Regions from separate parts of the Homo sapiens genome. Here region 2 is linked to region 1. The links come from fine-mapping of genetic effects on gene expression. A gene starts in region 1. The other region holds a variant in brackets. All regions are shown on one strand. Distances are from middle to middle. Region 1 holds the start of C1D (C1D nuclear receptor corepressor). Region 2 has its middle 22 kb from the start of C1D.

Region 1 (5,000 bases):
AGTCAGGCTGGGCGCAGTGACTGACGCCTGTAATCCCAGCACTTTAGAAGGCTGAGACAGGCGGATCACCTGAGGTCAGGGGTTCGAGACCAGCCTGGCCAACATGGTGAAACCCTAACTCTACTAAAAACACAAAAAATTAGCTGGGCATGGCGACGGGTGCCTGTAATCCCAGCTACTCCGGAGGCTGAGGCAGGAGAATCGTTGGAACCCAGGAGGCGGAGGTTGCAGTGAGCCGAGATTGTGCCACTGCACTCCAGCCTGAGCAACAGAGTGAGACTCCAAAAGAAAAGAGGGGCGAGATGGGGTGGGGCAGGGCGGGCAAGGGCAGAGCAGGGCAGGAAAGGAAACAAAAGAAAACAAAAGACAATAAAGTAAAATAAAATAAAATAAAACAAACCTAAGTCAGATCATGTCACTCCTCTCCTCCTACCTTTCCATTGGTTATTTACTCACTGGGCTATTGCTCAAGGGAAGATTCATGTCGAGGCACATTTTGAACTCCACATCACTAACATAATGTCTTGTCATGTATTAGTTAGTTAGCAACTATTTGTTTACTAACTAAAACCAATCAAAGTAACCTAAGACGTAATTTTGGAAACTCTTAATATCAGATTACAGTTTGAGCTTACAGATACTAGAAAGTCACCACATGGATCCAAACAAACATACGATAATGTACATTCCAGGGCTCTTCCCATCTCTACACCAAATAATTATACACAGTTATGAACTAAGCCAAAGAACAAATCCAACATGATTGTTTTTTGGAATTTGAGAGCCATTTGCTGTTGTTGCACCAGAATTCTATTACTGTAATGAATTACTGTAATGACTTTTTCGCACTGCATTATCTTAGGAGAAAATAACAATGAAATGTACACACAAGTTCTCAATAAATATTGCTGTCTTGGGCAAACAGTGACTCCATGTTAGTGTTGTCTGTAACTCTCCTTCAGTCCCACAGTACAATTCCTGAGTAAATATAGACTTCTTCCTTTTCTAAAAAATATATTAACATCTAAAAATAAATTTATCCCAAAGTCTAATAGGAGAGTATATAAATTACGAGGATATTGCTCAAGATTGAGATGAACAATTACATTAAATTAAATTCACTTCTATTCAAAGTTTAATTCAAAGCATTTCCAAAATTACAGCAATCAAGCAGCAAAATTACCTTCCAAAACATATGGAAGTTGATTATTACAATTATCTTATTTCTGAAATAAGAGTATATAGTGTTGTTGCACAGATTAAATAAACTAGATAAAAGCCATTAGAACGGGGCCTGGCTCAGTTAGCACTCAATACATTAGATAGTATTTTACTAAAAGTGAAAATTACCAAATACTCTAATCCAATGTGAACTATTTAGAGCCATGCTTGAAGGGTCAACTTTGGAAACAGTAGCTGAGATAATACATATGAAGAGCCATTTGAAAAGGTAAAAGCAGTTAAGAAAAAAATTACATTACTTTTGAACTGTGATACATACAACACAGCTAACTGAAGGCAGCTGTAGTATCTTTTGACTGAGAATTTTATTTTGAAAAACCGTTATTCACACTTGTCACTATCTTTCAACAAAACAATGAGTTCTATCATTTCCACCAAACACAAACATTTCTCTGTACTTCAATAGGGCTAATCTGTTGTTTTTGAATCAAAAATACAGAGTTAAATAACTAAAAGTATAACTGGATTGTTTGTAACACAAAGGATAAGTGCCTGAAGGGATGGATACCCCATTTTCCATGTGATTCTTACATATTGCATGCCTGTATCAAAACATCTCGTGTACCCCATAAATATATACACCTATGTACCCACAAAATTTTTAAATTTAATTTTTTAAAAAATCACGGTTAAGTCTTGGTTCAGTCCACCATCAGACAGTCCTAATAGGTTAATAAGTGGATAGCAAACATCTCATTGCGACAAATACATCTTTATCAAGCCAAAACTGAACTGTAGTCAGCAAACATTGAGGACATTAAAGCTATTTTGAAACAAGTTTGAGTTACACTGAACTTATCCGGGTCATCAAGAAAAACTGCTCTCTTGGATTACCCACTACAGATTTCAGCTAAAGGTCGAAATTAGCCCACTATCTCAGATGAGCTAATACTGCAGCAGCAGGCAGTCTGTGAATGTGAATGATAAACGGAGCTAACACAGTAAAGTTACTCCCCTAGACGTTCCACTTTAGCCTCTCTCCCTAAGCAAGATTGAAAACAGCTGAAAATTGTGAAGACTTCAATGTTTTTTGATTTTTGTTTTTAATTTCTTCGTCTTCCAAGATTTGAGAAGGGGGTGGTTAACAAACGAAGAAAAAGAGAGAGACCGGAGCAAAAGAGAGAAATGAGGGGCCGGGGTAAGCCAAAGCCTGCAAGCAGCCCCAAAACAAGCGGAAGTGGGGGACCTGCCAACAATGCTGCCCCAACGAAGAGCTGTGAGAGACTGCATTCCTGGAAGGCTACGCAGCCAAACTCCGATTTTCTCAGTCTGCCCAGAGGATGACAGGGGAATCCCAGGAGAGGAAAAGCGGAGTTAAACAGGAGCAGGAGAAAAACTGAAACTACACCTTAGAAAAATACCTCACGGCCTTCGACTCCAGTCTCCCGGAAAGCGGTCGGGCAACGATGACGACAATGACGCGCCGGCTCTGCCCCCGCCACGAGCGGCGCTTCCCGATGATCTCACGCTGCTCGCCACGCCCCCTGCTCCTTAACTCTTCTCCAAAGGCAAATCTCATTTTGAGTAGCTCAGACCCATGTTGTGGGAGACGATTGCGGCGGCACTCGGAACTTTTGTCTACCTTTGTACCCGGCTAACACTCACCCCAAATACAGGTTGAGTGTATTTAACCAGGAAAAAAATCTTAGTTATCGAAACTTTGTTCGGGTTTTTACTTTCCCAGAAGCTTTTTTCAGGGCCCTCATTCTTTCTACCCTTTTATTGTCTGCCTCTAGATGAGCCTCTTAGAGCAGCTTCCCAGATTATCCGTGGGGAAGAACAGGTTCTTTATTAGATTATCCGTGGGGAAGAATGGGTTCTTTATTTTTCCAATCTGTCAGTAAAAGGTACTTCTATAAAATACAGTAAAAATGAATTAGTAGAAAAATGGGGAAAATATGTGCAAAATACAAGCCCAAATTTTTTATTAGTTTCAAATAAATGTAAAATTGCATTTCAATGTATGCAATCAGAACAAACATAATAGAAAATAAAGGCATTAACAGAAACTGTACATACTGTTCATTGAAAGTGTAGTATAAGCGATTGAGCATTGTCTTAACATTTGTAACTTGTCATTCCACGGCTGTAATTTGATAAAAAGTTATGCATGAAACAGTTGTCCGTATATTAAATGCATGTAAAAGCATTTTGAACAAGCACCATGTATGTAATATTTAAAGTTTTGGGGGAGGTTCCAAAGTGGCCGAATAGGAACAGCTCCAGTCTACAGCTCCCAGCATGAGCAACGCAGAAGATGGGTGATTTCTGCATTTCCAACTGAGGTACCGGGTTCATCTCACTGGGGCTTCTCAGACACTGGGTGCAGCCCACAGAGCAGGGCGAGGCATGACCTCACCCGGGAAGCACAAGGGATCAGGGAATTCCCTTTCTTAGCAAAGGGAAGCCATGATAGACGGTACCTGGAAAATTGGGACACTCCCATCCTAATACTGTGCTTTTCCAACGGTCTTAGCAAACGGCACACCAGAAGATTATATCCCGTGACTGGCTCAGAGGGTCCCACGCCCACGGAGCCTGGCTCACTGCTACCACAGCAGTCTGAGATCAAACTGCAAGGCAGCAGCGAGGCTGGGGGAGGGGCGTCTGCCATTGCTGAGGCTTAAGTAGATAAACAAAGTGGCCAGGAAGCTTGAACTGGGTGGAGCCCATCGCAGCTCAAGGAGGCCTGCCTGCCTCTGTAGACCCCACCTCTGGGGGCAAGGCATAGCTGAACAAAAGGCAGCAGAAAGTTCTGCAGACTTAAATGTCCGTCTGACAGCTTTGAAGAGAGTAGTGCTTCTCCCAGCACGGAGTTTGAGATCTGAGAACGGACAGACTGTCTCCTCAAGTGGGTCCCTGACCCCCGAGTAGCCTAACTGGGAGACACCTCCCAGCAGGGGCCAACTGACACCTCATACAGCTGGGTGCCCCTCTGAGATGAAGCTTCCAGAGGAAGGATCAGGCAGCAATATTTGCCATTCTGCAATATTTGCTGTTCTGCAGCCTCCGATGGTGACACCCAGGCAAACAGGGTCTAGAGTGGACCTTCAGCAAACTCCAACAGACCTGCAGCTGAGGGTCCTGACTGTTAGAAGGAAAACTAACAAAAAGAAAAGACATCCACACCAAAAACCCATCTGTACGTCACCATCATCAAAGACCAAAGGTAGATAAAACCACAAAGATGGGGATAAATCAGAGCAGAAAAGCCGAAAATTCTAAAAATCAGAGCGCCTCTTCTCCTCCAAAGGAATGCAGCTCCTCACCAGCAATGGAACAAACCTGGACAGAGAATGACTTTGACAAATTGAGAGAAGAAAGCTTCAGACGACTGGTAATAACAAACTTCTCCGAGCTAAAGGAGGATGTTTGAACCCATTGCAAAGAAGCTAAAAACCTTGAAAAAAGATTAGACGAATGGCTAACTAGAATAAACAGTGTAGAGAAGTCCTTAAATGACTGATGGAACTGAAAATCGTGGCACGAGAAGAACGTGACGCATGCACAAGCTTCAGTAGCCGATTTGATCAAGTGGAAGAAAGAGTATCAGTGATTGAAGATCAAATGAATGAAATGAAGCAAGAAGAGAAGTTTAGAGAAAAAAGAGTAAAAAGAAATGAACAAAGCCTCCAAGAAATATGAGACTTTGTGAAAAGACCAAATCTGCATCTGAATTGTGTACCTGAAAGTGACTGGGAGAATGGAACCAAGTTGGAAAACACTCTTCAGGATATCATCCAGGAGAACTTCCCCAA
Region 2 (5,531 bases), 22 kb after region 1:
TATAGCTTCGGAGGTCTTAAAAATAGACTTTGCCAAAGCAACTACAGCCACCATAGTATTTCAGATAAAGGATCCTTTCTAAATAGGTGGTATTTACTTTATGTCCTTAATTGTAAACCAATGAATGAATGAACAGTATAGCTGAACATTGAGTACATAACGTTTGTCTTTATCTAAACATTTGCCTTAAACCCTAATCAATTTATTAATTATGCTTACATAATAAACCTTGACCTAGATCAAAATAACATAGTAGGCAGGAAAAACAGGAGAGAATTCCAAAGACTTGTGGCTTGAAAGACAGTGGGACTTGTTGAGATCACCACATTTATAAGTCCAAACCCCATATCCCTACATTAATTTGTAAACAACTCCTAGAATTGTGTCCCCACAAAAGATGTTGAAGTCTTAACATCCAGTACTTGTGCATGTGACCTTATTTGGAAATAGGGTCTTCACAGAGGTAATCAAGTCAAATAAAGTCATTAGGGTAGACTCTAACCCAATATGACTGGTATTCTTATTAAAAGAGCAAATTTGGACACAGAGACAGACATGAACATGGGGAGAATGCCATTGAACATGAAGGCAGAGATTGGGGTGATGATTCTACAAGTGAAAGAACACCAAAGATTGCCAGCAAACCACAAGTTATGAGAAAGGCATGAACAGATTCTCTCTCAGCCCTCAGAAAGAACCAATCCTGCTGACACCTTAATATTAGATTTTGGGCCTCCAGAACTGTGAGACCACACATTTCTGTTGCTTAAGCCAGGGGTCCCCAACTCCTGAAACTAGTCCGTGGCCTGTTAGGAACTAAACTGCACAGCAGGAGGTGAGCAGCAGGTGAGTAAGTGAAGCTTCTTCTGTATTTACAGCTGCTCCTCACCACTTTCATTACCACCTGAACTCCACCTCCTGTCAGATCAGCAGCACCATTAGATTCTTATAGGAGCATGGACCCTATTGTGAACTGTGCATGCAAGGGATCTAGGTTGTATGCTCCTTATGGGAATCTAATGCCTGATGATCTGTCAATGTCTCCCATCACCTGCAGATGGGACCATCTAGTTACAGGAAAACAATCTCAGGGCTCTCACTGATTCTACGTTATGGTGAGTTGTGTAATTATTTTATTATATATTACAATGTAATAATGATAGAAATAAAGTACACAATAAATGCAATGCACTTGAATCATCCCAAAACCATCCCCCACCAACCCAGTCCATGGAAAAATTGTCTTCCATGTAACCAGTCCCTGGTGCCAAAAAGGTTGGGGACTGCTGTTATAGACTACACAGGTGACTGAAAGAGGAAGTTTAGGCTAAAAACCAGTGCGGTGTGTATACACACCAAATGTATTGAAAGCTGAGAATATATCATGAGGAACCAAGGAGGAAAGTGCTTTAGGTCATCAGATTTTTTTAAAATAGTTTTTTCAAGATTAATTTACATACAATAAATTGCATACATTTCAACTGTGCAATTCAATGAGTTTTGACAAACATGTAGACCATCCCAATCAAGCTATAAAACATTTCCCAGAAAGTTCACTTTTGCGTTTTCCAGCCAATCCCCTCTACAGCTATGGCTGCCAACCACTACGCTTCTATTACTGTAGATTGATACTGCCAGTTCTAGAACTTCACGTAAATAGATTTACACAATAGGCACTATTTTGTCTGTCTTCTTTCACACAGAATGATGGGTTTTTTTGTTTGTTTTCTTTCTTTTCCAAGACTATTTCTTAGTGTGAACAGCATGATTTTTTTTTGAGTGAATAAATGAGTCAAAAAGCTATGAACATTCAGGTACAAGTCTTTGTATGAACATATATTTTCCTTTCTCTTTGGTAAATACCTGAGAGTAGAATAGCTGGGCCACATGGTAAGTGTATGTTTATTTTTATAAGAAACTGTCAAACTGTTTTCTAAAGTAGCCATACCATTTTATACGACTACCTTTCCTACATCAAGGGTCAACAAACTTTTCCTGTGAAAGGCCAAAGAGTAAATAAACATGTTAGGCTTTGTGGGCCACGTATGGTGTCAGTTACATGTCCTTCTTTATTTTACAACACTTTAAAACTGTAAAAATAATTCTTAACTCAAGTGCCATACAAAAGCAGGCCATGGGTTAGACTTGGCTCCAATGAAAATTCTGTATCAAGTCGGGATTCAACCAGAAAAACAGGACCACCAGAAGATATATCTAGAATTAGGGATTCGTTACAAGAGTTTGGCAGCATGTAATTGTTAGAAGCTGGTTAAAAGTTTTGCTATTTTCTAAGGTTGTTGTCTCTATATCTTGTCCTGGAGTTTGAAATTCACAGGGCAGGCCATCAGGAGGGAAGATGGATGTACAGTGGGGGAGGTTAGGAATAGACTGGACTTCACACATCAGTTGAAGACCATGAGGAGAGACTGACACCTGTGTCAGTTCTTGTTGCCACTGACCTTGGTAGTGTGGGTATCTGACAGAAATCAGAACCTTCAACCACACCCTCACCAACACTTGGCATGGTCAGTTTGTAGATTTTAGCCATTGTATTGAGTGTATACTGATATCTCATTTTGGCTTTAATTTGCATTTCCATGACAAGTAATGATGCTGAGAATATTTTCATGTGTTATTGGCCATTTGTAGGTCATCAGATTTTAAGGGTACTTTTCTTTTCTTTTCTTTTCTTTTCTTTTTGATAAAGCAATATGAGGTCAAGAATAGCTCTACATGGCTGGGTACAGTGGCTCACGCCCGTAATC[G/A]CAGCACTTTGGGAGGCTGAGCCGGGCAAATTGCTTGAGCTCAGGAGATCAAGACCAGCTTGGACTACATAGCAAAACATAGTCTCTGCAAAAAATAAAAATTAAAAATTAGCCCAGTGTGGTGGTGGGCACCTGTAGTCCCAGCTACTTGGGAGGCTAAGGCAGAAGGATCACTTGAGCTTGGGAGGTTGAGGCTACAGTGAGCCGAGACTGAACCACTGCACTGTAGCCTGGGAGACAGAGCAAGACCCTGTCTCAAAAAAAATAAATAAGTAAAAATAGAAGAGCTCTACAGCTTATTTCAAAAAGCTACTTAGCATTTGGAGTCTTAGTTATCTTCGACATTGCTAGACTGACAGTTAAACACCTGAGCAATATCATCAGGTAGGCCTGGGTCAAACCCTGACCCTGCTGCCTCCTGGCTGTGTGATCTTGGGCCAGTTCCTTAACTTCTCTCAGCTTCAGCTTCTAAATGTATAAAACAATACCTACCCCATAGGTTGATTATGAAGCATGAATGAGATAAGATCAAGTCACTATTTGGGGATTCACACAATATGTTCACATAGATATCACAATCCTTTACAGCCTGGTACAGAGTAGACGCTCAATCAATGGTAGCACATTGTTCTGTGTCTGAAATTTAAACTTCCACCATTGGGATTGTGGAGAGAAATTTAAGAAGGGAAAGACAGTTGTCTCTCCAAAAATGCTGTAGCTGTGGTAGTACACATTTGTTGTTGTTGTTATTGCTGTTGTTACGCTTTCTTTTATCCCTTTTCTTCCTTCTGGATTCAGTGTCCTTCATAAAGTACATCCTTTAGAAGCTCTTTCAGAGAGGGTTTATGAATGGCACACTCTCAAAGCCTTTATTTGAAAGTGTCTTCATTACACTCTGTCATACAAGAGTGAGGACATAATAAAGACCCTTTTACATTTTTATTCTGTATCATACTGTGATTCCAAGAAGAGACTCAGCTCATTAAAAATGACTGCTTCAGCTTCAAGAAACCACATGTTTTAGTTAGGTGAAGCAAGTACTTTTAATTGTTGTTGGCACTGTCATTTACACCCTTTTAAGTGGATCTACCATCTCAAGGAATAAATTTGTTCAAATTTATGTTAAGGAAATTCATCCTTAGTAAGCAAGTACTGAATAATGATGGAAAATATGACCTGTTTGCCAGAAATATTCTGCAGGTTTCAGGTTTCCACTGCCCATCAGAGGCAGCATTGGGCAAGGTGTATTCAGCCTTTGCAGAATAGATGAACTTCCTAGAATACAGCTGACCTGGTTTGTATACCTTATCCATGCAGTGAAACAACGTGGTTAGAAAATAAAACCACCACTGAGAATACACAAATGCAGTGGTTCTCAAACTCGAGCATGCACCAGGACACGGAGGGCTTGCCGCAACACAGCTTGCTGCCCTGTCACCCCAGAGTTTCTGATTCATCAGGTGTGGGGCAGGTTGCTGAGAATTTTCACTTCTGACAAGTTCCCAGGTGACAGTGACACCTGGTTCAGGACAACATTTTGAGACCCAAAGATCTATGGTATTTAAATAAACTGTGGCCATCTATGCTGATCATCAGAATTTAACAGACCTAAGTTCTTTTTGGTTTCAGGATGTAGATAAGTTCTCTCCCTGATATTGATCACTACTGAAAATAATGGAGGAAATGTTTTCAGTAAGAAAAATCATTGCCTATTTGGAAAATTATTTGAAATCAGTTATTAAGGCTTGAAGATCAACTTACTATTTGGGTTTCACATAGTATGAACAATCGTAATGAAAATGACACATTGAGCGAATGTTGAAAAAGCTACTAGAAAATATGTCTTTAAAATGAGACTATAGGCCGAGTGCAGTGGCTTACACCTGTAATCTCAGCATTTTAGGAGGCTGAGGCATGCAAATTGCTTGAACTCAGTTCAAGACCAGCCTGGGCAACATGGTAAAACTTTTGTCTCTACAAAAAAAAAAAAAAATTTAGCCAGGCGTGGTAGCTCATGCCTGTAGTCCTGTAGTCCCAGCTACTGGGGAGGCTGAGGTGGGAGGATCACTTGAGCCCAGGAGGTCCAGAGGTTGCAATGAGCTGAGATCTGCCACTGCACTCCAGCCCGGGCAACAGAGCCAGACCCCGTCATAAAAAAAAAAAAAAAAAAAGACAGAGAGAGACTATATAAATAAGTCAATCTTACTCATTTATCTTTGGAATAAATATTCTGGGCTATAGCAGAACTTCAGGCCTGAAGTAGGTTAAAAATATAAATTAACAAATTTAAACAGAAATTTTTTTACTTTCTCCTACTTTTTGTCCTTGTCTTTACCTTTCTTTTCATGGTGCACCTTTTGTTTTCTGCTCTTTCTCTTTTGGCTCCACTTTACTAAATACTTCCAATGTTTTTTTTTTCCTTTTCTAGGGTTTGATATGTAGTACTACATACCAAATAAACAAACAGGATAGACTCCTTAAAGGAATCTGTTTCAAACAGCCAGACTTACTGGGTTTGAATGAAGTCCATGTGTCCTCTGCATGGATCTGAATAACTTTTCCAGTCTAATGCTATTATGATGTCAAGTGGAAATGGCTTCTCCAACCCACCCCATCTTAATGAGATCCTGACCCTCTGTGCTTATCTAATAGTGTGTATCACACAAAGTTAAGCTGCATGTATTTAGCCTACACATTCATTCGAAGGGGAATAGCGAAGTCATCGGAGCAGGGCTGAACTATGAAAAGAACAATTCCTTGTGTTTA

The links. PIP is the estimated chance that this variant, and not a neighbour inherited with it, causes the effect. A credible set is the group of variants that fine-mapping cannot tell apart.
Region 2: its variant is the best candidate, but not a certain one, in a credible set for the expression of C1D in whole blood (INTERVAL, PIP 0.69).

Annotation. Positions count from the first base shown.
Region 1 is chr2:68,060,355-68,065,354 of GRCh38, forward strand. It overlaps C1D (C1D nuclear receptor corepressor), which reads right to left and starts at 2,650. Exons shown (of 5, transcript NM_173177.3): 1 at 2,604-2,650. RefSeq lists enhancers at 2,218-3,417, 2,339-2,748, 2,501-3,001.
Region 2 is chr2:68,082,211-68,087,741 of GRCh38, forward strand. No RefSeq gene overlaps it. Among named protein-coding and RNA genes, the nearest start is that of C1D, 22 kb to the left of the region's middle. The variant G/A (reference allele first, on the strand shown) is at 2,766.